4 linked regions of the Homo sapiens genome follow. The protein of the gene in region 1 interacts with the protein of each later gene in a pairwise test. Each region holds a gene or a part of one and is shown in the gene's direction. Other genes may lie near its edges.

What was found.
Region 2: the proteins of P4HA3 (region 1) and FIRRM interact in binary tests that used the Homo sapiens proteins (3 or more experiments, as listed by UniProt).
Region 3: the proteins of P4HA3 (region 1) and MAGEA2 interact in binary tests that used the Homo sapiens proteins (3 or more experiments, as listed by UniProt).
Region 4: the proteins of P4HA3 (region 1) and CTNNBIP1 interact in binary tests that used the Homo sapiens proteins (3 or more experiments, as listed by UniProt).

What each region holds. Positions count from the first base shown.
Region 1 is NC_000011.10:74,280,188-74,287,897, reverse strand, and holds part of P4HA3 (prolyl 4-hydroxylase subunit alpha-3 isoform 1 precursor), read left to right. Parts: intron 1-1,506; coding exon 1,507-1,670; intron 1,671-1,912; coding exon 1,913-2,089; intron 2,090-7,710. UniProt on the Homo sapiens protein: Catalyzes the post-translational formation of 4-hydroxyproline in -Xaa-Pro-Gly- sequences in collagens and other proteins.
Region 2 is NC_000001.11:169,797,777-169,805,486, forward strand, and holds part of FIRRM (FIGNL1-interacting regulator of recombination and mitosis), read left to right. Parts: intron 1-1,080; 5' UTR 1,081-1,142; coding exon of another isoform or gene 1,143-1,182; intron 1,183-3,106; coding exon of another isoform or gene 3,107-3,129; coding exon 3,130-3,195; intron 3,196-4,844; coding exon 4,845-4,949; intron 4,950-5,392; coding exon 5,393-5,533; intron 5,534-6,298; coding exon 6,299-6,464; coding exon of another isoform or gene 6,465-6,472; exon of another isoform or gene 6,473-6,610; intron 6,611-7,710. UniProt on the Homo sapiens protein: Regulates PLK1 kinase activity at kinetochores and promotes faithful chromosome segregation in prometaphase by bridging kinase and phosphatase activities.
Region 3 is NC_000023.11:152,750,534-152,758,169, reverse strand, and holds the start of MAGEA2 (melanoma-associated antigen 2), read left to right. Parts: upstream 1-4,327; 5' UTR 4,328-4,382; exon of another isoform or gene 4,383-4,628; intron 4,629-4,778; 5' UTR 4,779-4,857; intron 4,858-5,656; 5' UTR 5,657-5,776; intron 5,777-6,347; exon of another isoform or gene 6,348-6,445; intron 6,446-6,595; 5' UTR 6,596-6,661; intron 6,662-6,741; 5' UTR 6,742-6,806; coding exon 6,807-7,636. UniProt on the Homo sapiens protein: Reduces p53/TP53 transactivation function through recruitment of HDAC3 to p53/TP53 transcription sites. Also represses p73/TP73 activity. Proposed to enhance ubiquitin ligase activity of RING-type zinc finger-containing E3 ubiquitin-protein ligases.
Region 4 is NC_000001.11:9,907,169-9,915,362, reverse strand, and holds the start of CTNNBIP1 (beta-catenin-interacting protein 1), read left to right. Parts: upstream 1-5,093; 5' UTR 5,094-5,268; intron 5,269-8,194. UniProt on the Homo sapiens protein: Prevents the interaction between CTNNB1 and TCF family members, and acts as a negative regulator of the Wnt signaling pathway.

The sequences.
Region 1 (7,710 bases):
TTACAGCCATGTGCCACCATGCCCAGCTAATTTTTATATTTTTAGCAGAGATGGGGTTCTGCCATGTTGGCCAGGCTGGTCTCAAACTCCTGGCCTCAAGTGTTCCACCTGCCTCAGCCTCCCAAAATGCTGGGATTACAGGCATGAGTATTTAGTATTTAGATACTACAATGAGATACAAAATCACTATTTTGTTTTAATATTTATAAAGTATTTCATGTAGGACTTTATAATTGCATGTATACAAAACTTTTTAATGAATCCATTTAGTAACATTATTCCCTTCTGATAATTAGCAAACAATAGGATAAGGAAGTAGCTGTGTATCTACAAACACATGAGTAATTAGTGGTACAAACAAAATTATAATCCAACCCTTCTTTATTTATTTGCACTTGATCTATTAAAATCTTTGCTATCCACTCAAATTTTGTGCTTTTATAGGTGGATAATAGAACATGGCAAGTTGAGATTCCCAGTTTTATTTCCGGCTTTGCAATATTTTCACTGGGGTTTGGGCTTATAATTTCCATTCTCCAAAACTTCACTTCTTCTCTTGTTAAAACAGAATGGTAATTTCTGCCCCTTCCTTTCCTCCTTTGCCAGGGTGATGGTTGTGGTTAGAAGCACACTGGGCTCCTCAGAGAAAGATGCTTTGGGAGCATTAGAACAATTCAGCATCTCCTTCTGAGATGCATTGAGAGTCATGCAAAGAGGCCAGCAGGCCACGGGTAGCTCTGCCAATGCATGGGGCATCTTGCAGCCAAAGTGGGTACAAACAGGTGGGCACAAACAAGACACAAGATTTATTGGGTTTCCCAAGGGCCCTGTGGGAATCCAGTCTAGAGCCAAAGTCTAGAGTCCCTCTGCGCCATACTTCTTTGCTCTGGGTCTAGGCCAGTTAGGAGATTTGAAAGATCTAGTGGAGCCAAGAATGAATTAGCTTCCAATTCTCTGGGGAAGAATAGGTTGGGTCCTTTTGCAATAGGCTTTGGCTTTCTGGACTTCTCTTTCATTGCACTTATCATATTTTGTTGTAAGTGATAATTTAATGTCCTTTTTCTCCATTAGACTCTAAACTCTGAGAGGTCAACCTGTAGCACAGTATCTGGTACATAGTAGATGTTCACTGAAGATTTACTGAATGGATGGGTGAAAGAATGAATGAATGAATGAGGCTTCATCTTCGCCATATATACCATCACAGTATCCCAGAGCAGCCATCTTCATGATCCCTTGGCCTAAGAGTTTTAAGTTCCACTTTGCTTCCCAAAACCCTTTGCACCTTCAGATCTACCAGGATCAAGTCAGTCTTTTAAAAAAATACCAGGTAGTCTTCTGGGAGTGAGGGCCTTGCATCCTCCTGTGTGTTGACATGAGGAGTTATTCAGGAGATCCACTTGCCCATCCTGTGCAGCAGTGAAGCTGGAGGAAACCTTGGTGGCACTCCCTGGGGCCAGTATTTGTTAATCCCTATTTTATATTCCCTGCTCTGATTTCTTCCAGGCCCAGATAATAAGAGGATGGCCAGGAATGTCTTGAAATATGAAAGGCTCTTGGCAGAGAGCCCCAACCACGTGGTAGCTGAGGCTGTCATCCAGAGGCCCAATATACCCCACCTGCAGACCAGAGACACCTACGAGGGGCTATGTCAGACCCTGGGTTCCCAGGTAGGATTCCTCAGGGAAAGAGAAAGGGGGAGAGGCCTGGCTAGAGTTTGAGAAGCTAGAATTGGGATAACATGAGGGGATAGAGCTGATGCATTAAAAACAATAAAGCTCACTTGGGCAGCATCAGAGTGACCACATTCTGTATCTCTTGCATTCCAATTTTTTTATGCCATAGTTCCCCTAAGTTGAGTTTTGCTCCTAGACCCTTCTTCTCTTATGCTCATCCTATTCTTTCCTTCCAGCCCACTCTCTACCAGATCCCTAGCCTCTACTGTTCCTATGAGACCAATTCCAACGCCTACCTGCTGCTCCAGCCCATCCGGAAGGAGGTCATCCACCTGGAGCCCTACATTGCTCTCTACCATGACTTCGTCAGTGACTCAGAGGCTCAGAAAATTAGAGAACTTGCAGAACCATGGGTGAGTGTCCTGAGAACCCGCCAAGAATTTCTCTTTCATCTTCACATGCCTGGAGTTCAGGAGTGTAAGAATAGGCAACCTGAACAACTAGACACCTCAAAGAGCCAAGGAGTTCAGAATGCCAACCATTCCATAAAACTAGTCCATGGTGGAAAAAAATCACAATAGTGCTTGCCTCTAGAGGGAAAGGATTAACTGGATGATGTACAAGAGGATTCTCTGGGGTATTGAAAATGTGCTCTCAATATCTTGTTAGGGACGTGGTACATGTGGCTGTATGCATTTGTCAAAACTCACCAAATGGTCCACTTGAGACCTGTGTATATCATTGTATGTAAGTTTAACCTAAAAAAAGACAAATAAAAAAGAACACTTCAAAAGTGTCAACCATTCTATGTAATTGGTAGAGGTGGGGAAAAGGGTGAAATGACAGCGGCAAGGAGTAAAATCCTAGCACAAATTTACAGAGTTAGAGTAGAAAGCTAAACTTCATTATTTTGTTAAAAAGGAAACCGAGGCCCAGAGAGGGGAAGGGACTTGTTAAGCTCATACATGTAGCTAGAGCCACAGCTAGAACTTAGAGGTACAGTAGTCCCCCTTATTTGCAATTTTACTTTCTGTGGTTTCAGTTATTCTCAGTGTAGTACAATAAGATATTTTGAGAGAGAGAGGTCATTTTCCCATAATTTTATTACAGTATATTATTATTATTATATTTTATTGTTAATCTCTGTGCCTCATTTATGAATTATAAATTATAACATATAATTATAAATTAAACTTTGTAATTCAGTTACAATCATTATTATAATTTCGTTATAAAAAGAACCAAAGGAGGCCAGAATGATCAGGGCTAGCGGGCCCAACGAAGGTGCAGGGCTTCAACTGAGTCTCCAAAGATGGGCAGAATGTGGCGAGAAGTGTTGAGTGAGTGTGCTTTGGGAAAGGGACAGTGACTAGGAAGCAGATATTCAACACAAGCCACTGAGGCATCTGTCTTCAGTTTCCATGGGGGAGCCACTACCATGTGAGCCCAGGGCTGATTCCTGGGAGAGCCACAAACCAGACAGGCATCAGCAGCCCCAGAGAGATGCTTCTAGGGGAAGGAAGTGTGCCAAGGTCTGTGCATGCCAAATGGACGACACGGCCATGAATGACTAAATAGACATCTCTGGGTGGGTCACTTCTCCCATTACCATGGCAACAGGGCTGTTTTAAGGAAAAATTTAGTTATAATGTAATTATGATTATAATTAAATTACAATCATGATTAAATTAAATTACAATCATGATTAGATTAAATTTTGATTGAAGCCATCCCACTGTCTTCACTTGGAGACCCAGCCTGACAGAGCAGCCTCTGTATGGGACATTGCCAGTCTCATGGAAGAGGAAAAAGACAAATGGCAAACATGAGCTGGTTCATAAAGCTTCTGCATGGAAGTGCCAGATGTTACTTCCACCCATGTTTCACTGGTCAGAGCAAAGCATGTGGGCACTACTGCAGTTAACAGCAAGGTTCTAATTCTTCCACAGGGAAAGCACTGCAAGTCACCAAGCCAAGCTGGATGTCAATGGGAAGAGGACATTTAATCCTCCCCCTAGGAAGTGTGCTAAATATTAACAAGAAAAAATGCACCTCTATAAGCATGTTGCCTCTTTAAAGATATTGTCTCAGAATTATTTCTGTCAAGCCAGACATTGTGCCCTTAACATGTGCAGTTCATCCAGGCAGCCATTAGTCATTCGTCAACAGAATAGAGCCCACTGTGTGCCAGACACTGGCCTGGGTGCTGGGCTTTTACAGTGAGATGAAGTATTGGTTCTTTCCTCTTGGAAACTTAGTGCACAATGGAGAAAAACAAATATTTACACTACACTATGATACATGCTATCATAGAGGTGTGGGCAGAGAGTTGTGCTATGCACATAAAAAAGCAAGGCTTCCTCTAAAGAAAAGGCAATTGGGTGAAGAAGAGATGGGGAAGGGAGGAAGAATCAGGGAAGGCTTCACTGTGGAGGTGACATCTATCAGAGAAAGAAGGTAGCAAAGGGTATTCCAGAAAGACAAAACAGTATGTGCAAGGGCCTGATATGTGGTATGTTCAGAGACTGGGCAGAAGCTTGGTGGCTGAAGTGTGCAAGGGATGGGGGCGAGAGGTGATAGGAAATGAAGCTAGATGTGAGACACCATTAGCAGATGCTATAAATGCCATGCCGGGGAGTTTGGATTTTATCCTGTAGGCAGCAGGAGAGCTGTTGGACAGTTTTAATGGGAGAGTTGCATGATCATGTCTGATTTTTAAGGAAGACTGTAACAGCAGACATGGATTGGAGGGAGAAGAGGGGCAATCATCATTTCATCTAAAAGCCCCTCCAGGAAAGTCTAGAATCTTTGCACAGAAGCTTTTTGAGATAATTAAGCCCCACTGGTGAATTGGAGCAAACAGGTTCAGCTTTGCAGTGAGCCAGCAGTAGTAGCTTTTGGCCAGCAGCTGCTTTTTCCTTATAACAGCCCTGTTGCCATGGTAACGGGAGAAGTGACCCACCCAGAGACGTTGATTTAAATGTTCATGGCCATGTCGTCCATTTAGCATGCACAGATCTTGGCACACTTCCTTCCCCTAGAAGTGTCTCTCTGGGGCTGCTGATGCCTGTCTGGTCTGTGGCTCTCCCAGGAATCAGCCCTGGACTGACATGGTAGTGGCTTCCCCATGGGAACTGAAGACAGATGCCTCAGTGGCTTGTGTTGAATATCTCTGCTTCCTAGTCACTGTCCCTTTCCCAAAGCACACTCACTCATCACTTCTCTCTCTCACCACATCCTGCCCATCTTTGAAGACTCAGTTGAAGCCCTGCACCTTCGCTGGGCCCGCTAGCCCTGATCATTCTGGCCTCCTTTGGTTCTTTTTCAGAGCACTTTTTGGAGCCATATACAATTACCTATTCCTCCTCTGAACTCTAAGCTTTTTCTCACTGGTTGTTTGGTACTTAATTTTTAAATGTATTCTGCCATTTATGTGTTGTTTGACATCACTGACAGTTTCCTGGGTCAGCATCCTGTCTCCCCAGTCAGACTGTAAACTAGCAGGCATCATCTTTCTGCAAATGCCTTGCCCCATGTTCTTCCCATTGCTGCCAGAGTAAATCTTTAAAAGGTCAGGTCTGACCACTCAAGCCCTTGCTGAAACTCTTCACTGGGTCACTTTTGCCTTTGAGTGCTTACAAGTCTCCATGGCCTGGCTGCTGCCAACCCCTTCTACCACATCTCCCCCGGCACTTGACGCTCCAGCTGCACACTCTTCTGTCTGCCTGGAACGAACTGCCCTTGACTTCTCACCTGTATGATTCCAGTGTGTCTTGTGGACATCCTGGAAAGACTCCCTGTCCCTCATAAGAATGGGCTATGTGTCCCTCTTTCTATTGCCATGGCATTCTATACTTGCCTATTATGGCCCCATTAGATGTCTTAGGGGCAGGGACATTGTCTGGATTAACATTGTTTTTCCAGTGCCTAGCACAGTGCTTAGCACAGAGAACAACCAATAAATATTTGTTCCAAAAAACGAGTGACTGGTAGGTAGACAATTAATGATTGTTACAGGAAATAAATATAAGGTGACTCCTTAATTTGGGATGGGGGGGATTCCTTAGGGTTTTTTTTTGTTTTTTTTTTTTAAACCATTGATTTTGCCCTAAAAGAACAGAAGGGAGCATCTCTCTTCTATGAGTTTCTCCTCTACAAATGGCTCAGGACAGGACACCAGGGACAATGGATGGAGGCAACATCAATCCCCTTCTGATTTCCTGCTTCCTAAGATTGTAGAGCCACATGTGAGAGGAACTCGCAAGCACATGTTGTTCATAAGCTGCATTTTATTTATTTTTTATTTTTTTGTCCCAAACTTTTATTATTATTATTATTATTATTATTATTATACTTTAAGTTTTAGGGTACATGTGCACATTGTGCAGGTTAGTTACATACGTATACATGTGCCATGCTGGTGCGCTGCACCCACTAACTCGTCATCTAGCATTAGGTATATCTCCCAATGCTATCCCTCCCACCTCCCTCCACCCCACAACAGTCCCCAGAGTATGATGTTCCCCTTCCTGTGTCCATGTGATCTCATTGTTCAATTCCCACCTATGAGTGAGAATATGTGGTGTTTGGTTTTTTGTTCTTGTGATAGCTTACTGAGAATGATGATTTCCAATTTCATCCATGTCCCTACAAAGGACATGAACTCATCATTTTTTATGGCTGCATAGTATTCCATGGTGTATATGTGCCACATTTTCTTAATCCAGTCTATCATTGTTGGACATTTAGGTTGGTTCCAAGTCTTTGCTATTGTGAATAATGCCGCAATAAACATACGTGTGCATGTGTCTTTATAGCAGCATGATTTGTAGTCCTTTGGGTATATACCCAGTAATGGGATGGCTGGGTCAAATGGTATTTCTAGTTCTAGATCCCTGAGGAATTGCCACACTGACTTCCACAATGGTTGAACTAGTTTACAGTCCCACCAACAGTGTAAAAGTGTTCCTATTTCTCCACATCCTCTCCAGCACCTGTTGTTTCCTGACTTTTTAATGATTGCCATTCTAACTGGTGTGAGATGGTAACTCATTGTGGTTTTGATTTGCATTTCTCTGATGGCCAGTAATGGTGAGCATTTTTTCATGTGTTTTTTGGCTGCATAAATGTCTTCTTTTGAGAAGTGTCTGTTCATGTCCTTCGCCCACTTTTTGATGGGGTTGTTTTTTTCTTGTAAATTTGTTTGAGTTCATTGTAGATTCTGGATATTAGCCCTTTGTCAGATGAGTAGGTTGCAAAAATTTTCTCCCATTTTGTAGGTTGCCTGTTCACTCTGATGGTAGTTTCTTTTGCTGTGCAGAATTTAGATGGGGAAACAGGCCCAAGGAAAGGAAGAGGCTTTTCCAAGACTGTCTATCTGGTTTAGCAGGAGGGACAATGACATTATGGAAGCTTCAGAGAAGGGAAAGAGCTTCTGTCTGTGTAGCTCATTGCCCCAGGCACTGCTCTGCCTGCCTGTGAAGCACCAGAGCTGGGTCTGAGCCCTGTGAGTACCTTTAAGGGCAGTGCCCTATTTCATTCATTTGTTTATTTAACCAGTACTAAGCACCTACTCCACCACCAGGTGTTGAATGGACCCTGGGGATACAGCACTGAAAAAAGGCCAAGTCCTTGCCCTCATGAGCTGACATTCTGATGACAGAGGCAGAAGTAGACATGTTTACCCTCATATAAATAAATAATATTTCTCTTTCTGTCCCTGGATTTTGCAATTAGGAGACACTTTATTTAAAAATAATTTAGGCCCGGTATGGTGGCTCATTCCTGTAATCCCAGCACTTTGGGAGGCCGAGGTGGGAGGATCCCTTGAGACCAGAAGTTCAAGACCAGCCTGGGCAACAAAACAAGACCCCGTATCTACAAAAACATTTTTTTTTTAAATTAGCCAGGTTTGGTGGCATGTGCCTATGGTCCCAGCTATTTGGGAGGCTGAGGTGGGAGGATTGCTTGAGTCTAGGAGTTGGAGGCTGTAGTGAGCTATGATCGTACTAGTGCACTCCAGCCTGGGCAACAG
Region 2 (7,710 bases), on another chromosome or scaffold:
CGTGATCCGCCTGCCTCAGCCTCCCAAAGTGCTGGGACTACAGGCGTGAGCCACCGTGCCCGGCCGGGTTATTCATTTTTCTTATTAACATTCTTTGATGATTCTTATGGTGTTGTTACAGTAAAACATTTCTAACAATTATTCTAACAATTATTCTTGATGGTGTATATGAAGAATTTATTGTCGTGTATTTGTAAGCTGCTATGTGCAGAAGAATTTCAGTCAAATAAAGTTGGTAAGATAGGTATGTAAGTAATATGAAAAAAGATAGAAGGTGATGAGTGACTTAGGTATAAATTAAGTACAATAGAAATGTTGAGGAAAGAAAAATTTCTTGTAATAGAAATCGGAAGTACAAACTGGGCATGGTGGTGTGCATCTCTAATCCCAGCTCCTTGAGAGGCTGGTATGGGAGGATCACTTTAGCCCAGGAGCTTGAGGCTGCAGTGAGGTGTGATCATGTCACCGCACTCCATCCTGGGTGACAGCAAGACCGTCTCTCTTTTTTTTTTTTTTTGAGACGGAGTCTCGCCTATGCTGGAGTGCAATGGCGCGATCTTGGCTCACTGCAACCTCTGCCTCCCAGTTTCAAGTGATTCTCCTGCCTCAGCCTCCTGAGCAGCTGGGATTACAGGTGTGCGCCACCATGCCCAGCTAATTATTTTGTATTTTAAGTAGAGACGGGTTCTCACCATACTGGCCAGGCTGGTCTTCAACTCCTGACCTCTTGTTCGCCCATCTAGGTCTCCCAAAGTGCTGGGATTACAGGTGTGAGCCACCCCACTTGGCCCCGAGCGAGACCCTCTCTCTAAAAAAAAATAAATAAATAAATCATAAACCTGTGGATTATTGTAGCATTGTTTCTCATCTGTCAAAAATATTTCATGACTATGCATAGTTTGAAAAGGCAAGTTTGTCCCTGGGCAATTTTCAAAATATTTCTTTAATGTGTTTTCACAATACTGTTTACCTAATAAATCTTAAGTTTTTAAAAGCAAAATTAAGCCAGTAATTTGAGTCCAATTCCAATCTCTTATGAGTCATTGCTTAAATTTCAAAAGGGTTTTATTTTTTTTTTAGGTTTGTTCTGAGTAATGAATACCCTATTACTATGATACTAGTATCTTCCTTAATTATCCTACTCATTGTCTCAACATTCTGACAGTTGGATTGAGCATATTCGTAAGTAAAATTGTTTTAACTGTATGATGTACTTTGATGTTAAGGTCCGAGTCCCCACATACCTCGGTAGATGTGTTCTTACAGTTTTGTATTCCCTTGAAATGTAACTGTTCTCTATGTTACAGCCTTTATAACCTTCAGTTACTTGAAATGAACAAATTCATTCAAATTCCAGCACTTAAAAGTTTTAAATTACATTTTGGATAAATACCAAAGTGTTTTGTTGATGATGTATGTATAAACAAATTGTAAATATTAAACGTTAGTTGTTACGATTAGACCTATATAAAACATGATATGCAGTCTACTGAATAGCTATCAGCCTCTAACATGTTTAGTGTCATTTAGAAAATGCTTTCTAAATTGCCAAAAGCTGATTGTCTAGGTGATAACAAATTTACCATTTGGAGGAAGTTGACTTTCTCATTTTCATGTCTTCATCAGTCTTACTTGATGAGATTCATTCTTCTAGTCAGAAGAGAGTTTAGACTGCTCAGTTTACTCATATTTTGAGTTAGCTTTTCTATTTAGAGTTCACTTGGTTGTGGAATATTCATTTATAATTTGAATCTACGTTGTGTAATGGGACCTAATTTTTTTTTCCTTTGTTTTTGTTGGAGTCTCGTTTTGTCACCCAGGTTGGAGTGCAGTGGCGTGATCTTTGCTCACTGCAACCTCCACCTTCCAGGTTCAGGTGATTCTCCTGCCTCAGTCTCCCAAGTAGCTGGGATTACAGGCATGCTTCACCACGCCTGGCTAATTTTTGTATTTTTAGTAGAGATGGGGTTTCACCATGTTGGCCAGGCTGGTCTCAAAACTCCTGAGCTCAAGTGATCCTCCTGCCTTGGCCTCCATAAGTGCTGGGATTACAGGCGTGAGCCGCTGAGCCTGGCCCCAGAGTTTGTTTTGTTTTGTTTTCAAGACAAGATCTCACTCTATTGCCCAGGCTGGAGAGCAGTAGTGCGATCATAGCTCACTGCAGCCTGAACTCCTGGGTTCAAGCTATTCTCCTGCCTCCATCTTCTAAAGTGCTGTGATTACAGGTCTGAGCCATGATGCTTGGCCTGTGTTTTTGTTTGTTTGTTTTGGGGGACAGGGTCTTGCTTTGTCACCAAAACTGGAGTGTAGTGGTGCGAACATAGCTAGCTCACTGCAGCCTCCATCTCCCACGCTCAAGCAATCCTCTCACCTCAGCCTTCCAAGTAGCTGAGACCGCAGGTGCGTGCTACCATGCGTGGCTAATTTTCTATTTATATATTTATTTTTTGGTAGACATGAGGTCTTGTCATGTTTCCCAGGTGGTCTTTAACTCCTGGGCTCAGACAGTCCTCCCGCCTCAGCCACCCAAAGTGTTGGGATTACAGGCGTGAGCCACCATGCGTGGCATAATTTTTTTTAAGTAAATTATTTTTTTATCTTGAGTATAGAAGTGATTCATGTTCATTGTGGAAAATATGAAACATATAGAAAAACAGAAAAGATTACAAAACATCTAATCTGAAATGGTTAAGATTTTGATGAGAACAGTCTCATCTCATTTCCGTATATTCCTGCCAGCCTATCCATCATTCTTCGTACATGTTTATCTACATTAAAATTGGTGTTATATTTTGGAAACTTTTTGTTTAACTACATTGTGAACATTTTTCATGTTTTAAAATGTCATTTTAATGATGGCAGATCCTATTCAATAGATGTACACACACCTATTTAACTGGTCCACAATTGTTGGATATGTAGGTCGTTTCCTTTCTCTCTTTTTTTTTTTTTTTGGCTACTACTTAATAGTTTCTCTGTATAGAATGTGGTATTTTGAAAGTGTATCAAGCTTTAGATTGGTAGTATTCTTGCATTTAATAAAGGGCAGTGGCCTTTGTTGACTGACATGACAATATTTTTATAAAATTTGTTATTTGCTTTACAGAAATTTTGAAAATTATTGTAGAAATGTTTTTACCTCATATGAACCACCTGACATTGGAACAGACTTTCTTTTCACAAGTGTTACCAAAGGTATAATACTATTACCTGAAAATACATGTTATAAGGAATCTAGCCTCAGTCTTAGATGATTTATTATTAATTATGGCTCTCTTTTTCTAATATATCAAATATATTCAAAATAAAAATAAGGAGTAAGTAGATCTCATGTGAGACTATAATGGTGTTAGTGTGATCATTAGGCAGTTAAAAACTGTTACAGGCTGGGCACGGTGGCTCATGCCTGTAATCCCAGCTCTCTGAGAGGCTGAGGTGGGCAGATCATCTGAGGTCAGGAGTTCGAGACCACCCATGGTCAACATGATGAAACCTCGTCTCTACTAAAAGTACAAAAAATTAGCTGGACATGGTGGCAGGTGCCTGTAATCCCAGCTACTTGGGAGACTGAGACAGGAGAATTGCTTGAGCCTGGGAGGCGGAGGTTGCATTGAGTCAAGATCGTGCCATTGCACTCCAGCCTGGGCAATAAGAGCGATGCTCCGTCTCAAAAAAAAAAAAAAAAAAAAAAGAACTTATATTTTCAGATTGTGTGGTTCCTTTACTAACTGAATTTAAATTATTTGTAGTCAATTTTAAATGCTCTTGTATTTTAAAGCCACTGTACTCCAGCCTGGGTGACAGAGTGAAACCCTTAATTCAAAAAAAAAAAAAAAAAAAAGAAAAGCTGGAATATTGGCAAAATCAAGTAACTAAGAGAAAACATTAAATTCACAGAATACATTATTACATTTTAGATATATATGGTATATGTTTTCTCTGAAAAGCACAAGCATACCTTTTTTGTTTTAAATGGAGGGAACTAAAGATACTTTGGTGCCAAAATGAAACATTATTTGTAATTAATCTCTTATTGAAATGGGTTTCTAACTTTAGCTTTGAATCGTAATCTTTCAAATTTCTTGTACTCATAGTCACTTGATGATTCTCTATCTGAAATATTTCTTAGAATTTGTTCTTGACCACCAGAAAAAGATTCAACTGTTACATAGATGAAAATGGATGTTGAGTGTTAACAGGCCTATGGGAAACAGTATTTTCTTTAGCTACATTGTATTGTTGACTGTGTTGCTATTCTTATAATGTTTAGGTCATTTAAATTGTTAGAAAGATCCAAGTATTAAGATCTAGGGTGGCTAACTTTTCACAGACAAAAAGCTTGTTTGTAAGGTCATTTACTATACCCTTAATTCAGGAAGGTTAGCTTGAATTGGGTCAAAAGGAAACTGGTTAGAAAATAAGTGAGTAGTGAATAGGCGATTCAGTGCAAATTCCTTCCAGAAAATACCCTTGTAAATGACTGTATGAATGTGGATTCTTCAAGACAGTCAAATTTATTGTGCGAAAGTAATACTTTTATTTTTTGCATCTCTAAAACATGAACTTTGAGTGATTTTTTAAAAAAATTGATGCTATTAAATAGATTCAAACCATAGAAATGGAAAATAAATTTCTGTTTGGGGCTTTTGGGGGGATTATGTTGTAAAAATACCTTTTCTCTGTATTTTGTGCTTAATTAGGTACAATTGTTAAGCTAGATGATAGCCTGTGGATGTTACTAGTGCAAAATCAAATTATCGTATTGTGTTTTCTCTGTAAAGTTTTGTCTTGTCTTTTCTAGTGATTTCTCTTATTCCTGTTTATTACTTGATTTGTTTTTACAGACTGTGAAATTATTCGATGACATGATGTATGAATTAACCAGTCAAGCCAGAGGACTGTCAAGCCAAAATTTGGAAATCCAGACCACTCTAAGGAATATTTTACAAGTAAGTCAAATGTATTAGAAAGCAGGAGAGAGAGGGAGCTTAAAGAATGTCAAAATTTTTATACTGATACTGATTAGCTATGTATTCTTATGTAATGGCCTAATGTTGGAATTAAATTTATAGAATTAAAGACGTGAATATAGAAACATGAATTCTGAATAATAAACTCTTATAAGAAGAGAAGTCATCAAGCTAGCTGACCCTACCTGTATTTTCAAGGATATGTGTGGAACACCTGCCATGTGTTTTGAAGTTTGTGTTAGTATTCTAAATGGCTAGACAGTTGTTCCAGTATTTGTAGTTCTGATAGACTAAAGTTCTGTGAAAAGAGGAAGAGACTGTGTTTTGTTCATTGCTGTATTTGTAGCACCCAGCATGCTGACTAATACCTTTTCAGTGCACAAAAAATATATTCTAAGTGAAATTTCCTTCCTTATTCACAGACAATGGTGCAGCTCTTAGGAGCTCTCACAGGATGTGTTCAGCATATCTGTGCCACACAGGAATCCATCATTTTGGAAAATATTCAGAGTCTCCCCTCCTCAGTCCTTCATATAATTAAAAGCACATTTGTGCATTGTAAGGTGAGTAAAGGTCTAATTATACTTTGAATGGTATATAATCAATGTGCATAGGGGCTGAGTAAAATAATGTTTGTATAAGATTTTACATTTTAGTCTATATTATTGAAATAAACTTTTCCATAGAATAAAGAACATGTAAGTAAATAATTGTTGCAAAAAAAGTGGTTTTAAGGAAGTCATTAAAAGTGGCTTTTTGGGGTTTTTTAGTTTTATCTTATTTCCCCTCTATAAAGAAAGAAGTTTTAAGAATTTGTGTTGAGACAGACACAGGGATCCTGAAATAGTTATGTCATGTTGCATTGACCAATATTCAATTACCATTATGATTAGATGTCAGAACTTCCTTTTATAAAGGAAAGTTAATCCTTATTTAGTCCATCTCTACATGCCAGAGGTAGCCTTGAGGCACAAAAGCTTGCCTAGAATTTATGGGTCACAGACAGTTTTAATATTGCTATTTGTTGGGCGAATGAAAATCACTAGTTAATTAATACCTCTCTTTGCTGATAGGATGCTAAAAATGTCACGCACCTGGCCTAATGTTACCCTTTTTTAGTTCTGTATTTGCAAGATCATGGAAGTCAGAAATAATATTTTATACATGCTTGCATCTCTTGAAGCACACTATATTTAATGGATGTTCACTAAACAATGAATGAATATGTGATTCAGTAAATTTATGATCTCTAATAGTATGAATTAAAGTAAATTTGGCTCTTGAGCTTTGATTTGTTTTTTCTCTCATTTTTATTTATCCGTAATCAGAATAGTGAATCTGTGTATTCTGGGTGTTTACACCTAGTTTCAGACCTTCTCCAGGCTCTTTTCAAGGAGGCCTATTCTCTTCAAAAGCAGTTAATGGAACTGCTGGACATGGTTTGCATGGACCCTTTAGTAGATGACAATGATGATATTTTGAATATGGTAATAGGTGAGTGAAGAAAACTTTCTGCTTAGTATATGGTGACTATAAATCATGTATCAATTAAAATTGTCTCTAATGATTCATGTTATTTTCTTACTAATTATGCATTAAAATTGATTTAAATCTTACCAAATAAATTTTTAATCTTGAAATTTGGAATTTGTAAAATTTATTTTGGGTACCTTAACCTAGATTTGCGTATTTAGTTACTGTAATTTCTCCACAATGATTAACTTATATAACTTTATAATCTCTGAGGTTGTCCATATTCAGAGACAATAACTTTCACATTTTTTTAACCATAACTGATATTGAGATGCAGTTTATATTTCCTTCCAGAATACATATAAATACGTGCATATGTGTATGTAAATATGTCTATTCTCATATACATATTATAATGAAATAACTCATTTTACATGTGATGCACTTTATACTAGTTTATTTTTATTTTATTTTATTTTTTTGAGACAGAGTCTCACTGTGTAGCCCAGGCTGGAGTGCAGTGGCACAATCTCGGCTCACTGCAACCTCGCCTCCCGGACTCAAGCGATTCTCCTGCCTCAGCCTCATGAGTAGCTGGGATTATAGGCGTCCGCCACCACACCTGGCTAATTTTTGTATTTTTAGTAGAGACAGGGTTTCACCGTGTTGGCCAGGCTGGTCTTGAACTCCTGACCTCAGGTAATCCACCTGCCTCAGCCTCCCAAAGTGCTGGGATTACAGGCATGAGCCACCGTGCCCAGCCAATACTAGTTTATTTTTAAAGAATTGCTGGTCGTAACACACTTCATTGATTTTATCACTCATTAATGGATTATGAACAAGAGTTTGAAAAACAATATAAAGGCAAAGTTTGCATTCAAAACTTTGGTATAAAGAGAGTAAGTTGGTTTTGTGCAGTGTATCAGGCACCTGTTGCTCTGCAACACACCACCTCAAAATCTATTTATTCACTATTTATTTATTCATGATTCTGTGAGTCTGCAGTTTAGGGTGGGATGTCCTGAGACAACTTTCTCTGATCCACCTGGGGCACTAGCTCACCCATGTGACTTCAGTGACTTCATTCACATCTGGCTGTTGGCAGAGGCAGAAGTACTTGAGAAAGCCATGTGCATCATCCAGCAGGTTCACCCTATCTCAGATACCTGATGCCAGTGGTTTCAGGGTTTCTAAGAGTAGCAAAAGTGTGAGCAGGTCGCTGTGTGCTAGCACTTTTCAAGTTTCTGCTTGCCTTAATTTTATTATT
Region 3 (7,636 bases), on another chromosome or scaffold:
GTACACATATGTGATAAAGAACTTGTCTCTACAATATATGCGAATTCTTAAAGCTCAATGATAGAAAAAATGAAAATAGTCAAAGATCTGAACACACACTACACAAAAGAAGATATACACATGGCAAATAAGCATAATAAAAGTACTGAGCACCCTTTGGCATTAGATAATTGTGTACTAAAATGGGATACCACTGCACACCTATCAGAATGTCCAAAATCCATAGAAAACCAAAACAAAGAATACAAGACCAAGAACAATTGCCAGCGAAGATGTGGAGCAACGGAAACTCTCCTTCATTGCTGGTAGAAATGCAAAATGGCACAGCCACTTTGGAAGGCAGTTTGGCGTTTTCTTAAAAAAATGAAAATAGACTTAGCACAAGATTCAGCAGCCATACTCAATCAATTTACCCAATTGATTTGAAAACTTATGTCTACATAAAAATTTGTATATGAATGTATACAATAGCTTATTTCATAATCACCAAAAATAGAAGCATCCAAAATGTATTTCATTTGGTGAATGGATATATATATATATACATATATATATATATATATAACCAGACATTGATACTACTCCTCAATGAAAAGGAATAAGTTCCAAGCCACACAAAGTTATACATGACTCTTCAGTTCATTATGCTAAGTGAAAGAAACCAGTCTAAAAAGGCTACATAGTATAAGATTCTATTTATATGACATTCTGGAAAATGCAAAATTATAAAGATGAAAAACCTATCAGTGGTGGCCATGGGGTTTATCCGACAAGCACAAGGGAATTTATCAGGGCAGTGAAACTGGTATGCATAATACTGCAATGGTGGTTCCGTGCTTGCTTTGGTCTGAATATTTGTGTTGCCACAAAATTCATCTGCTGAATTACCAAGGTGATGGTATTAGGCAGAAGGTGGGGTATTTGGAGAATGACTAGATCATGAGAGCAGAGTCCTCATGAATGGGATTAGTGTTTTTATAAAACAGACTCCACGGAGATCCCTTATCCCTTCTTGCATGTGAGGATCTAGGGAAAAGGCAGCTGTCTATGAACTAGGGAGCAGGACTCCACCAGACATGAAATCTGCCAGCACCTTGATCTTGGACTTCCCAACCTCCAGAATGTGAGAAATAAAGTTGCGTTGTCTATAAGCCACCCAGTCTATCACTATTTTTGTTATGGAAGCCCAAACGGACTAAGACAATGGCACGAGGCATTTGTCAAAACCCATAGATCTTTACAGCACAAAGAGTGAAGCTTAATGTATGTAAAGTTTAAAAGTAACTTAAGAGGTTGGAGAATCACGGGACGGCAGGTAGAATGTTCCACACACACACACACACACACACACACCTAGTTGTATAATAGATATATGAAACCACCACAATGAAGCAAGTGGGGGGAAAAGTTAACACATTTTGTACTCCATCAAAGAAATATATATTTTATAAAGTTTAAGTTGGCCAGATAAGTGTGTAACATAGTTGAACATTTGATAATCATTTATTTAATTTTTTAGATATGAAAACTATCGGCTTTTTGTTTTAAAAAAATCCTTATCTTTTAAAAATGCATATTAAGTTATTTAGAGATGAAATGGTCTAATGCCTTAGATTTACTCCACGTTATTCCAGCAGCTCATATGCAGGTAGGCGAGTGTTTAACTGGAACCAGATTTGCTGTGTATTTAAAGATGTTCATGCTCGGTATCAAGTATCCTGGGTTCATTATATTCGTTCCTGTTATTCTGTATGTGTGAAGGCTTTCCCTAATAAAACTTTTTTATCATAAATATGCCATTAAAAGTGAAATCCTAAATGAAACTGACCACTTTGTAGAAATAAAATAAATCAGTAACCAAACTGATCCAAAGAGGAAAAGAAAACTTTAACTATACAACAGAAACTGTACAATATTCAAAGCTCAAGCCACCCTCAAACATTCCAGGTTAGACAGCTTTGGAGGCCAATTTTACCAAATGATCAGGGAAAACTAACCACCGCCTTATATCAACTCTTCCAGAACATACAAAAGACTGACAATTGTTCAGTTCATTCTCCCAGGCTAGCCCTCCTGGATTTAAAAACCAGATGAGGACCACATACCTCCCCTGATGGAAAAAGAACACATCAAGTAAGCTCTCTTACACAGCAGTAAATATCCTACATAAATTAGTAGTACATTAAACGAATAAACAGGCTCTGCCCAAGGAAATAAAATATGATTTAACATTAGAAAAAACATCTGTTTCATTGTGATTCCTTACATACAAAATGGAAGAGAAAAAAATTTGATCCTGCCAACGGGTACAGAAAAAGCTTTTTAAATAAATTTAATATGAATTCATGGTAAAAAAGAAAATATTTAGGCAACCTATACTGAAAGAGAACTTCCATTTCCTAAAATCAACAGCAAACATACTTAAATGTCAAATGTTCGAAGAATTATCATTCAAGTCAGGAACGAGAAGTAGATGTAGCCTATTATCTCTACATTTGAAATCAGGATTGAGACACAAAGAGCTGTAAGTACCGAAATGAGTGAGTGGTATGAACATTGGAAAAACATGTAGTGTTTAGTGATAATACCATTATCGATCTTGAAAATTCAAAGGAAAAGGTATGCGGAATATTCAAGTGCATCGGCCTTCAGAACGAGGTGTGCAACAGATTACTACAGCAAAATCAAAATCTTCACCTCACGAAAGCAATAACTAACTACAACAATTGATAGACAATATGCCACTTGCAATAGCAACAAAATCCAAGAATTACCTGAATAGAAGCCTAATAAAAATGTATAAGTTGTTTATAGAGGCAACTACCGAAGTATACTGACATATTCAGGAAAAAAGAGCTTGAAATCCATAGAGGAGTATAACATATTCATTCACGGGGAACACAACAGTGTAAAAATGTAAACTCAGCTTAAATTATTTACAATTTAGTGCCTTACCTGTAGCCGCCGACATTACAAGCAAATTTGGGCTGCTGTGCTCTGCTTCCCAAATCAACCCTGTAAATTTATAGAATGGAAACAGAAAGTAAAACACCAGTATCAGCAAGAAAATCTACACAACAAAACAGGGAAAGCCCAGAGTGAGACTGGAGACTGTGTTGAGCTGGTACTTGTGTGTGACACTTGCAGTGTCTGTTGGAGGGGGTTAGCGGCAGAGATGTTGGGGAGGTTTGTAGCCTGCCTAGACGGCAGATGAAAGAATGGGTAGAATAAAAGTTTTGAATTTTCCACTTCACTTCATTGCACAATCTGAGGCAGCCCCTGAAAACACGATGCCAAGAGCCCTAGGTAATAGCAGTGTCCACCAGGAAAATTGGGTTTGTTAAGGCAGCATGGCTCCAGAGTTCTGCTAATAACAACCTGAAACCAACAGAGTGGGAGAGGAATTATGTTTTTTAAAAAAATTCTTTCAACAGAACACAAAGACTGGAATGGAAGTAGACTAGGATATCAGAGTGAATCATGCATACTAAGGGTAGGTGTTAGTTCATAGAAATAAATATATATATTGCTACCTACATATATACTTAGAAGATATGTAAACCGTATTTCTTCAATTCAGAGAATAAATCATTTAGGACCAAAGGTTTGCCAAGTGTAGCTCTGGCTGGGGAGGAGCCCCCGTGGGAAGGTGTGCGTCTTCTCCCAGAGGTCACTATCATCGCGGGAGCTCCTGCCCTGCAGGGAGCACCTGGCCTGGCACCCGCAGCCATTCTCTACAAGGGGTGCAGATGCGCAGATGCGCAGATGCTCAGAGGTGACAGAAACAGAGCATCTCCCACCCATTCCTTCATCAAACAGCCAGGAGTGAGGAAGAGGACCCTCCTGAGTGAGGACTGAGGATCCACCCTCACCCACATAGTGGGACCACAGAATCCAGCTCAGCCCCTCTTGTCAGCCCTGGTACACACTGGCAATGATCTCACCCCGAGCACACCCCTCCCCCCAATGCCACTTCGGGCCGACTCAGAGTCAGAGACTTGGTCTGAGGGGAGCAAACACAATCGGCAGAGGATGGCGGTCCAGGCTCAGTCTGGCATCCAAGTCAGGACCTTGAGGGATGACCAAAGGCCCCTCCCACCCCCAACTCCCCCGACCCCACCAGGATCTACAGCCTCAGGATCCCCGTCCCAATCCCTACCCCTACACCAACACCATCTTCATGCTTACCCCCACCCCCCCATCCAGATCCCCATCCGGGCAGAATCCGGTTCCACCCTTGCCGTGAACCCAGGGAAGTCACGGGCCCGGATGTGACGCCACTGACTTGCGCATTGGAGGTCAGAGGACAGCGAGATTCTCGCCCTGAGCAACGGCCTGACGTCGGCGGAGGGAAGCAGGCGCAGGCTCCGTGAGGAGGCAAGGTAAGACGCCGAGGGAGGACTGAGGCGGGCCTCACCCCAGACAGAGGGCCCCCAATAATCCAGCGCTGCCTCTGCTGCCGGGCCTGGACCACCCTGCAGGGGAAGACTTCTCAGGCTGAGTCGCCACCACCTCACCCCGCCACCCCCCGCCGCTTTAACCGCAGGGAACTCTGGCGTAAGAGCTTTGTGTGACCAGGGCAGGGCTGGTTAGAAGTGCTCAGGGCCCAGACTCAGCCAGGAATCAAGGTCAGGACCCCAAGAGGGGACTGAGGGCAACCCACCCCCTACCCTCACTACCAATCCCATCCCCCAACACCAACCCCACCCCCATCCCTCAAACACCAACCCCACCCCCAAACCCCATTCCCATCTCCTCCCCCACCACCATCCTGGCAGAATCCGGGCTTTGCCCCTGCAATCAACCCACGGAAGCTCCGGGAATGGCGGCCAAGCACGCGGATCCTGACGTTCACATGTACGGCTAAGGGAGGGAAGGGGTTGGGTCTCGTGAGTATGGCCTTTGGGATGCAGAGGAAGGGCCCAGGCCCTCCTGGAAGACAGTGGAGTCCTTAGGGGACCCAGCATGCCAGGACAGGGGGCCCACTGTACCCCTGTCTCAAACTGAGCCACCTTTTCATTCAGCCGCGGGAATCCTAGGGATGCAGACCCACTTCAGCAGGGGGTTGGGGCCCAGCCCTGCGAGGAGTCAAGGGGAGGAAGAAGAGGGAGGACTGAGGGGACCTTGGAGTCCAGATCAGTGGCAACCTTGGGCTGGGGGATCCTGGGCACAGTGGCCGAATGTGCCCCGTGCTCATTGCACCTTCAGGGTGACAGAGAGTTGAGGGCTGTGGTCTGAGGGCTGGGACTTCAGGTCAGCAGAGGGAGGAATCCCAGGATCTGCCGGACCCAAGGTGTGCCCCCTTCATGAGGACTGGGGATACCCCCGGCCCAGAAAGAAGGGATGCCACAGAGTCTGGCCGTCCCTTGTTCTTAGCTCTGGGGGAACCTGATCAGGGATGGCCCTAAGTGACAATCTCATTTGTACCACAGGCAGGAGGTTGGGGAACCCTCAGGGAGATAAGGTGTTGGTGTAAAGAGGAGCTGTCTGCTCATTTCAGGGGGTTGGGGGTTGAGAAAGGGCAGTCCCTGGCAGGAGTAAAGATGAGTAACCCACAGGAGGCCATCATAACGTTCACCCTAGAACCAAAGGGGTCAGCCCTGGACAACGCACGTGGGGGTAACAGGATGTGGCCCCTCCTCACTTCTGTTTCCAGATCTCAGGGAGTTGATGACCTTGTTTTCAGAAGGTGACTCAGGTCAACACAGGGGCCCCCATCTGGTCGACAGATGCAGTGGTTCTAGGATCTGCCAAGCATCCAGGTGGAGAGCCTGAGGTAGGATTGAGGGTACTCCTGGGCCAGAATGCAGACAGGGGGCCCCATAGAAATCTGCCCTGCCCCTGCGGTTACTTCAGAGACCCTGGGCAGGGCTGTCAGCTGAAGTCCCTCCATTATCCTGGGATCTTTGATGTCAGGGAAGGGGAGGCCTTGGTCTGAAGGGGCTGGAGTCAGGTCAGTAGAGGGAGGGTCTCAGGCCCTGCCAGGAGTGGACGTGAGGACCAAGCGGACTCGTCACCCAGGACACCTGGACTCCAATGAATTTGGACATCTCTCGTTGTCCTTCGCGGGAGGACCTGGTCACGTATGGCCAGATGTGGGTCCCCTCATCTCCTTCTGTACCATATCAGGGATGTGAGTTCTTGACATGAGAGATTCTCAAGCCAGCAAAAGGGTGGGATTAGGCCCTACAAGGAGAAAGGTGAGGGCCCTGAGTGAGCACAGAGGGGACCCTCCACCCAAGTAGAGTGGGGACCTCACGGAGTCTGGCCAACCCTGCTGAGACTTCTGGGAATCCGTGGCTGTGCTTGCAGTCTGCACACTGAAGGCCCGTGCATTCCTCTCCCAGGAATCAGGAGCTCCAGGAACCAGGCAGTGAGGCCTTGGTCTGAGTCAGTGTCCTCAGGTCACAGAGCAGAGGGGACGCAGACAGTGCCAACACTGAAGGTTTGCCTGGAATGCACACCAAGGGCCCCACCCGCCCAGAACAAATGGGACTCCAGAGGGCCTGGCCTCACCCTCCCTATTCTCAGTCCTGCAGCCTGAGCATGTGCTGGCCGGCTGTACCCTGAGGTGCCCTCCCACTTCCTCCTTCAGGTTCTGAGGGGGACAGGCTGACAAGTAGGACCCGAGGCACTGGAGGAGCATTGAAGGAGAAGATCTGTAAGTAAGCCTTTGTCAGAGCCTCCAAGGTTCAGTTCAGTTCTCACCTAAGGCCTCACACACGCTCCTTCTCTCCCCAGGCCTGTGGGTCTTCATTGCCCAGCTCCTGCCCGCACTCCTGCCTGCTGCCCTGACCAGAGTCATCATGCCTCTTGAGCAGAGGAGTCAGCACTGCAAGCCTGAAGAAGGCCTTGAGGCCCGAGGAGAGGCCCTGGGCCTGGTGGGTGCGCAGGCTCCTGCTACTGAGGAGCAGCAGACCGCTTCTTCCTCTTCTACTCTAGTGGAAGTTACCCTGGGGGAGGTGCCTGCTGCCGACTCACCGAGTCCTCCCCACAGTCCTCAGGGAGCCTCCAGCTTCTCGACTACCATCAACTACACTCTTTGGAGACAATCCGATGAGGGCTCCAGCAACCAAGAAGAGGAGGGGCCAAGAATGTTTCCCGACCTGGAGTCCGAGTTCCAAGCAGCAATCAGTAGGAAGATGGTTGAGTTGGTTCATTTTCTGCTCCTCAAGTATCGAGCCAGGGAGCCGGTCACAAAGGCAGAAATGCTGGAGAGTGTCCTCAGAAATTGCCAGGACTTCTTTCCCGTGATCTTCAGCAAAGCCTCCGAGTACTTGCAGCTGGTCTTTGGCATCGAGGTGGTGGAAGTGGTCCCCATCAGCCACTTGTACATCCTTGTCACCTGCCTGGGCCTCTCCTACGATGGCCTGCTGGGCGACAATCAGGTCATGCCCAAGACAGGCCTCCTGATAATCGTCCTGGCCATAATCGCAATAGAGGGCGACTGTGCCCCTGAGGAGAAAATCTGGGAGGAGCTGAGTATGTTGGAGGTGTTTGAGGGGAGGGAGGACAGTGTCTTCGCACATCCCAGGAAGCTGCTCATGCAAGATCTGGTGCAGGAAAACTACCTGGAGTACCGGCAGGTGCCCGGCAGTGATCCTGCATGCTACGAGTTCCTGTGGGGTCCAAGGGC
Region 4 (8,194 bases), on another chromosome or scaffold:
TACTGTCTTACAATGGTGAAGGTCAGGAGCAAAGTTATAGATGTTTAATAATAACAGACTCTACTGCTTGTTTACAACAACAAACTACCGGGCAATCTATATTCAATAAGATGAGGAAAGAATTGCTTGTCAGGAGTGGTCTTTTCAGTCTCATCTGAATACACTGATATCATTGCAACATCTACAGCTATGAAATGCCATTTATATGCCAGGGAGAGTGGGGGAAGACAGTTATTTAATTTTTCCCAGAGGGTACAGGCTATTTGCTTTTAGGGATGGTCATTTTTTTGGGTCCTTAATTAGACAATAACCAGCAGGAAAAAAAGGTGATAAACAGACTGCTATGGTTAAAGGCTAATCAGCTGAGTATATGGATCCAAATTAAGGTCTTATGTTGCTTTGTCTTTACTAGGTGATTAGAATGTTTCAGGCTTCACAGACAAAATACACTTAGAAGACATGTTGGTTGATCAAAACACTCAGCCAAAGAAATGAATAATTATTTCTTTATACTGTTCCCAAACACATAAAAGCTGGGTTCTGTGATGTCGGGAAGATCTACTCATCAGATGCTACAGAGACTAACACTTGGGGGGCATGCTGGCAGAGAGCCAGATGTTCACAGCTGCACATACCCCACTCATGACACAAAATATGTATATTCACCGATCTACAAAATGCTTTCATCATTGTGTTTAATAATTCCTTATCATCTCCAAAGTAAAATTAGATGACAAGTATTTGCCAAGGCACAACACAAGAGGGTGACACATGACTGTGACACTCTTTGTCTGCTGTGCACTTAGCCTCCTTTTAATTGTCTGTCTTCAGAGAAGTTAGAGCTATACCAAATGCAAACAGGATGGCAAACAAAGAGACCAGAGCAAAAGATCATTTTTTCACTTTCTAAATACTGGAAGTTATTAATTTACTCATTCTGACCTTGTACTTGCTCAACTTGTAAGCAGAAGACCTTCTTATAGAGTAAAATTTAAGTTGTTGCCATAAACCCCCAACTGCTTTAAAATAGCTCTTCTGCCTATAATCCTAGTGCTTTGAGAGGCCGAGGTGGGAGGAGGACTGATTGAGACCAGGAGTTAAGAGAGCTGCCTAGGCAACATGGTGAACCCCATCTCAAAAAAAAAAAAAAAAAAAAGTCGGGTGCGGTGGCACATGCCTGTAATCCCAGCAGTTCAGGAGGCCGAGGTGGGTGGATCACCTGAGGTCAAAAGTTTAAGACCAGCCTGGCTGGTAGAGACAGTGAAACCCTGTCTCTACTAAAAATACAAAAATTAGCCAGGCATGGTGGTGGGCGCCTGTAATCCCAGCTACTCGGGAGGCTGAGACAGAAGAATCGCTTGAATCCGGGAGGCAGAGGTTGCAGTGAGCTGAGATCATGCCACTGCACTCTAGCCTGGGTGACAGAGGAAGACTTTGTCTCAAAAAAAAAAAAAATTAACTGGGGGATGGTGGCACACGCCTGTAGCCCTAGTTGCTCCAGAGACTGAGGCAGGAGAATTGCTTGAATCTGCGAGTTTAAGGTACAGTGAGCTAGGACCATGCCACTGCACTCCAGCCTGGGTGACAGAGGGAGATCCCATCTCTAAATAAATAAAAAACAGTTATCCTTCCCTGCAGCCTGCTATGGTTGCACTGTTATTTCATACTTCGCCTGAAAATTTTACTCTTATAGTTATCCTTTGCTGTAGAGAACAGTTTTTTGGCTGGGCACGGTGGCTCACGCCTATAATCCCAGCACTTTGGGAGGCTGAGACCGGGTGGATCACTTGAGATCAGGAGTTTGACACCAGCCTGGCCAATATGGTGAAACCCTGTCTCTACTAAAAATACAAAAATTAGCTGGGCGTGGTGGCGCATGCCTGTAATCCCAGCTACTAGGAAGGCTGAGGCAGGAGAATCACTTGAACACAGGAGGCGGAGGCTGCAGTGAGCCAAGATCACACCACTGCAGTCTAGCCTGGGCGACAATGAGACTTCATCTCAAAAAAAAGAAAGAAAAAAAAGAGAAAAAAAATAGTGTTTTTTTTCTTTTTTTGCTCCAGAAAGCAACTATTTAAAGATACATAATAGGCCAGCATGGTGGCTCACAGCTGTAGTCCCAGCACTTTGGGAGGCTGAGGCCAACAGATCACTTGAGGTCAGGAGTTCGAGACCAGCCTGGCCAACATGGTGAAGCCCCGTCTCTACTAAAAATACAAAAAATTAGCTGGGCATGGTGGCGGGTGCCTGTAATCCCAGCTACTCAGGAGGCTGAGCAGGAGAATCACTTGAATCCAGGAGGTGGAGGTTTCAGTGAGCCAAGATTGCACCACTGTGCTCCAGCCTGGGCAACAGACTGAGACCCCATCTCAAAAAAAAGAAAAAAAAGATACCTAATATATGTTCTGGGACCACACGGAGGCCCTCTCCAGAGCTGAAAGGAGAAAATATCGAACCATAAATGCAGTGAGAGAAGAGTAAGGAGGAGAAGGCTGATAGCCCTGGGGGTCGGAGGCGGGGAGTAGGAGTGGCTGGCCGGCCGATGGAAGGGAAAGTCCTGGATGGAGTATTTACACATTCAGTTTGTTCCTGCAGTAATATTTGTGGATACAGGTATTGTGCTTGGTGGCATGGTCCTTGCCCTCCTGGAGTTTATAGCCATGCTGTGGGACTAGGGCTAGCATCCATTAAGAGGTCTCCCGGAAGTAGACCAAGTATTCAGGCAGGTGAAGTGGGGAGAAATCGGAAAAGAGCCATTGAGGCCAAGGGAACAGCGCAATCAGAAGACCTGAAGCACAAAAGAGCTCCCTGTGATCAAGGAACAGGCACAAGGCCCATATGTGGCTAGAGCCCAGTTGGCAAAAGTGGTTCAAGATCAGGCTGTAGCCAGATCCTGTAAGGCCTTGTTGCCACACTAAGGACTTTGAACTTCCTCGTGAAAATGAAGAGAAGTCGTTGAATAGCGCAGGTCTGACAAGATTTTAAGAAGTTTCCTTTAGTTGCTGTGTGGGCAGTGAATGGGGGCGTAAGGAGAGCCTAAAGGAGAGACTGCTTGAAGGGTTATTGCAGGAGTCAAGGTGATAGCTGGTGGCAGGTTAAACTGGGAAAGAGGGGTAGAGATGGTAGGAGGTGGAGAGATTAAGGACACCATTTAGAATTGGAAACAACATGGACTGGAAATGAAGAATAAAGGAAAGAGTGGTGTCAACGGTACAATTTAAGTGTCTGGTGTAAGCAACTGGGTAGAGAGTGGTGCCAGTTACTGAAGGTGGGGACACTGTAGGAGAAACCCACTTGGGGACCAATTTTTTTTTTTTTTTTTTTTTCAGACAGAGTTTCGCTCTTGTTGCCCAGGCTGGAGTGCAATGGCGCAATCTCGGCTCACTGCACCCTCGCCTCCCGGGTTCAAGCGATTTTCCTGCCTCAGTCTCCTGAGTAGCTGGGATTACAGGCATGCGCCACCACGCCCGGCTAATTTTTGTATTTTTAGTAGAGACGGGGTTTCTTCATGTTGGTCAGGCTGGTCTCCAACTCCCGACCTCAGGTGATCTGTCTGCCTTGGCCTCCCAAAGTGCTGAGATTACAGGCATGAGCCACTGCGCCCGGCCGGGGACCTATTAAGTATGAAAAAGTGTGAGCAGGCCGGGTGCGGTGTCTCAGGCCTGTAATCCTAGCATTTTGGGAGGCCGAGGCGGGCAGACCACTTGGGGTCAGAAGTTGGAGACCAGCCTGGCCAACATAGAGAAAACCCGTCTCTACTAAAAATACAAAAATTAGCCGGGGCGCATGCCGGTAATCCCATCTACTCAGGAGGCTGAGGCAGGAGAATCGCTTGAACCCGGGAAGCGGAGGTTGCGGTGAGCCAAGATCGCGCCACTGCACCTGAGCCTGGGCGACAGAGCGAGACTCCCTCTCAAAAACAAAAAAACCCCCCAAATGAGTAAAGAGTAATGTGGATATTATATTATAAACGAACAAACAAAAAAGGACTTCGTATTCTTTTTGCATAGGGAAGGGGAAGAAATGTGGAGTGGAAGAGGATGGTACAGAAAAGGTGTAAAAAGAAAGGCTGTGGGAGGAGTAGGGTAGGAGGGCTTCTGAACTGGGGTTAGTGTCACACTGTGTAACTGATAATTTAAACTGCTGAAAATGAGACCACACTTAAAGATACAGGTCCCTTTAAAAGGAAGGCGGATGTTAAAAGCAATTTGCATTTTACCTAAAATGGGCTGCTTCTCCCTGTACCCTCTCCAAATACAGCCAGACTTTCTGTAGAAACATTTTAATCATGGGCACCCTTCCCCCGAAAAATCCACTCACTACCAGTACACACGACCTTCTGAGTTTAATGGACCTACGGAGGCCCATCCCTGGGCTCTCTGGGCTAGGTTAATCCCAGGTTAGGCCCCAAGCTCAGAGGTAGCAACGTTCCCAGCTCAACGACGCAGGAAGACCACGCCTCTAAATGTTCTGCAACCTCGTCCATTTCAGAATTTTCCGGGGTTCTGGGTAAACTGGCCTCACCAAGGATTCTGCCCCGTCTTGTTGCTCCCGTTTTTAAACACAGACCGGTGTGTGGGAGAGGCCATTATTTTTCCGGAACACTGTGCTCCTGGAGCAGATAGGGACACGCAGAGTGGCTTTACCGCAGCGCCAGCTTCAGCCTTACCCGGCTCCTCCTCCAGGCCACCGCCTCCTCCTCGCGCCCAACCCGCCTTCCCTGCTCACCCCCGGCCCGCTCCTCCCCTTTGCTCTCAGCGCGGACTCGGCCACTCACTACCGGCGCCGTGTTCCACCCGCCCACCGCATGGCCCCGTCCCTATGTCGCTGGTCTCGCCCCCTTCCAGGAGGGCCCAATGAGCGTTCACATGCGCCACAAGGCCCCGCCCCGCACCGCGCAGCCCCGCCCACAGGCTGAGTTAACCAATTCGCGGCCCCGGGCCCCGCCCCGCCCGCAGGCCCCGCCCCGGCGCCCGGCCCCACGCGCCCGCCTCCCTCCGGGGCGTTGCCGCCGCCGCGCCTCAGCAGCCCGCGCGGAGCCAGATGCCGCCCCCTCCGCCGGTCCCTCCCCCGGCGGCCTGGCGCCTCCCTCCCTCCCCACCGCGGTGACTCTCGGAGCGGGAGGCGGAGGCTGAGGCGGCCGCTCCTGCTGCTGCTACTGCCGCCGCCGCAGCGGCTGCTCGGGCTGAGCACGCCCCGGAACAGGCCGCCGCGCGCTGCGCGCCGGACCCGCTGCCCCTGCCGGCCCGGCCGGGTCGGGCGGCCCAGGTAAGCGCCGAGGCCGGGCCGCGCCTGCACCGCCCGGGCCCGCGCCGCGCCGCGCCGGGGCTTGGGGGAGCGGCCAGCCCTTTGTCTGCCGGGGAGGGGCCGCGGAGAGCGCCCCCGACCCCGCTCGGACCCCTGACTGCCCCAGCGGCGCGGCGCCCTGGTCTGGGCCTGGCCGCCTCTCGCCGCAGACCACCTCCCGCCTCCCTGACTCTTCGCCCGGGGGTCGCCTCCACAGGTGTCCGCGCCGCCCACCTTGTTGCTCACCTCACCGCGTCCGGGTGCCTGTCATCGCCCGTCCGCCCTCCCGACCTCTGGGCCCCTGCCTCTTCCCTCACCTGCGCCCACTCTGAGACTCTTACTCTCCATATTTCCCCAAACTAAACGCTGGGCCGCCCTTCCTCCCTCTGTAGTTTGATTGAACTGTCGTCTCCCGATTCCACCCCTCCCCGGTGAGCCTTCCTGGAAGGTACCTGGTGGGGGCACATATCTCACCTGGATGGCGGGCGTGTATGCACGAACCTGCAAAATTAACCACCTGGAGCCCCAAACTGCACCTCTCACCTCCTTTTCATCACCCCACCCCAACCACCTTCCTTTTTTTGGAACCTGGTAACCGAGACACTCAGGTCTGGACACCCAGCCTCTGCTAGGCCCTCCATCCCTCCCTCTGCCTTGTGAGCTGAACTTGTCTGAGCAGTGCCTGTTGTCAGGTTAGCCCCTGGGAAGGCGGCGGGGGCCGTGTTGGCCGCAAATCAAGAGTTTTATGAATAATGAGACGTGTGGCTTGCACCACCTCCTGTCTGAGGATCTCAGTATGCTCCAGCTGTGAATTATTTTGTCTCCTGTCACTCACAGAACTGAGAGGAACATGTCTGGCCAACTGCTGGGTAAATTGAGGTACAGGGTGTGTGGGTAAGGGACCTGGAGGCAAGTCATGGTTTGTCTTGAAGTTCTGTTCGCAGGAGCCTTGGCTCTTAGCTCCCTGCTACAACCACTGGGCTCCAGTTCCTGGAGTGTGTCCCCAAGTGATAACTGATCTCTTGTGCCATTAAAATGTCCAGAGATACCAGCAGCTTCCTCAGATTTAAAGTAGGACTTTGGATCATAAATAAAGGTGCGGGCTGTTAAATGCCAATGTGTCATTCACGGTTTGCTGGGGGAGTTCGTGGTCCTCCCTTGTAAATACAAATCACCTCTATGGGATGGAGATTCATTCATTCAGTAGTGAGCATTTACTATGTGCCAGGCACCGTTCCAAGTACTGGGGCTTTAGTGGTGAAGACAGACACGGTTTCTGCCCTCCTCAGAGATGACATTTTAAAGAGGAGGAAAGTCAGACAATAAGTGAGTAAACAAACAAGTGGACAAAATAATTTCAGTAGTGGTAAGTGCTATGAAGATGGAGAGGGGCCAGATTACATATAAGAATCTGTGGCCGGGCGCGGTGGCTCACGCTTGTAGTCCCAGCACTTTGGGAGGCCGAGGCGGGCGGATCACGAGGTTAGGAGATCGAGACCACGGTGAAACCCCATATCTACTACAAATACAAAAAATTAGCTGGGCGTGGTGGTGGGCACCTGTAGTCCCAGCTACTCGGAGAGGCTGAGGCAGGAGAATGGCGTGAACCCGGGAGGTGGAACTTGCAGTGAGCCGAGGTCACGCCACTGCACTCCAGTCTGGGCGACAGAGCGAGACTCCGTCTCAAAAAAAAAAAAAAAAAAAAAGAATCTGTGGATCAGGGCGGACTCAGTGGTTCATGCCTGTAATCCCAGCACTTTGGGAGGCCAAGGCGGGCAGATCACGAGGTCAGGAGTTCGAGACCATCCTGACCAACATGGTGAAACCCTGTCTCTACTAAAAATACAAAAATTAGCTGAGCGTGGTGGTGCATGCCTGTAGTCCCAGCTACTTGGGAGGCTGAGGCAGGAGAATTTCCTGAACCTGGGAGGCGGAGGTTGCGGTGAGCCGAGATTGCGCCACTGCACTCCAGCCTGGGCAACAGAGCAAAACTCCGTCTTGGGCGGGGGTGGAGAAAAAGAACCTGTAGATCAAAACAAAGATTTTGTAGGTCGTAATAAAGAGTTTGGATTTTATTCCAAGAACAGTTAGAGGCCATTGGAGGGTTTTAAGCAGAGAAAGAATAAAGTCTGATTTGTTCCAAAAGATTGTTCTGGCCACTGTGTAGAGACTGGATTCTAAGGAGCAAAGGTGGAGGCAGGAATACCAGTTATGAGACAGACTATTGCAGCTGCCTGGCAAGAGATGATGGTGGCTTGAGGGATCGGGGCAGTGGCAGTGGAAACGAAGAGGTGGAATCAGTCTGTTCCCTCTGGGAGAGCTGCAAAGCAAAACTTTGGAGACTGAGAGTTAGATGTCCCATAACAACGTGCTCACAGAACAGGTCCCCGCCTCCTTGATTGGAGAGGGTTTGTGGGTTTAAAAACCAGTTAGAGGTGGAGGAGGGCATAATACACTGGGTTTCATTCCCACATCCGGTTGTATTGTTTAAATGGGAACATTACTGCCACTGTTGGAAGATGTTGCACCAGGAAATTGGGCCTGTTCTCATGGTAGGTAGGAGAATGTTTCAGTGGCCACAAACTTGAGCTATTAATGAGAATGAGGCCAGGTGCAGTGGCTCACCCCTGTATATGCCAACATTTTAGGAGGCCAAGGCGGGCGGATCACCTGAGGTCAGGAGCTCAAGACCAGCCTGGGCAACATGGTGAAAACCCGTCTCTACTAAAAATACAAAAATCAGCTGGGCATGATGGCGAGTGCCTGTAATCCCAGCTACTCGAGAGGCTGAGGCAGGAGAATCGCTTGAACCAGGGAGGTGGAGGTTGCAGTGAGCCAAGATCGTGCCACTGCACTCCAGCCTGGGCGACGGAGGAAGACTCTGTCTCAAAAACAAAAAACAAAAAAA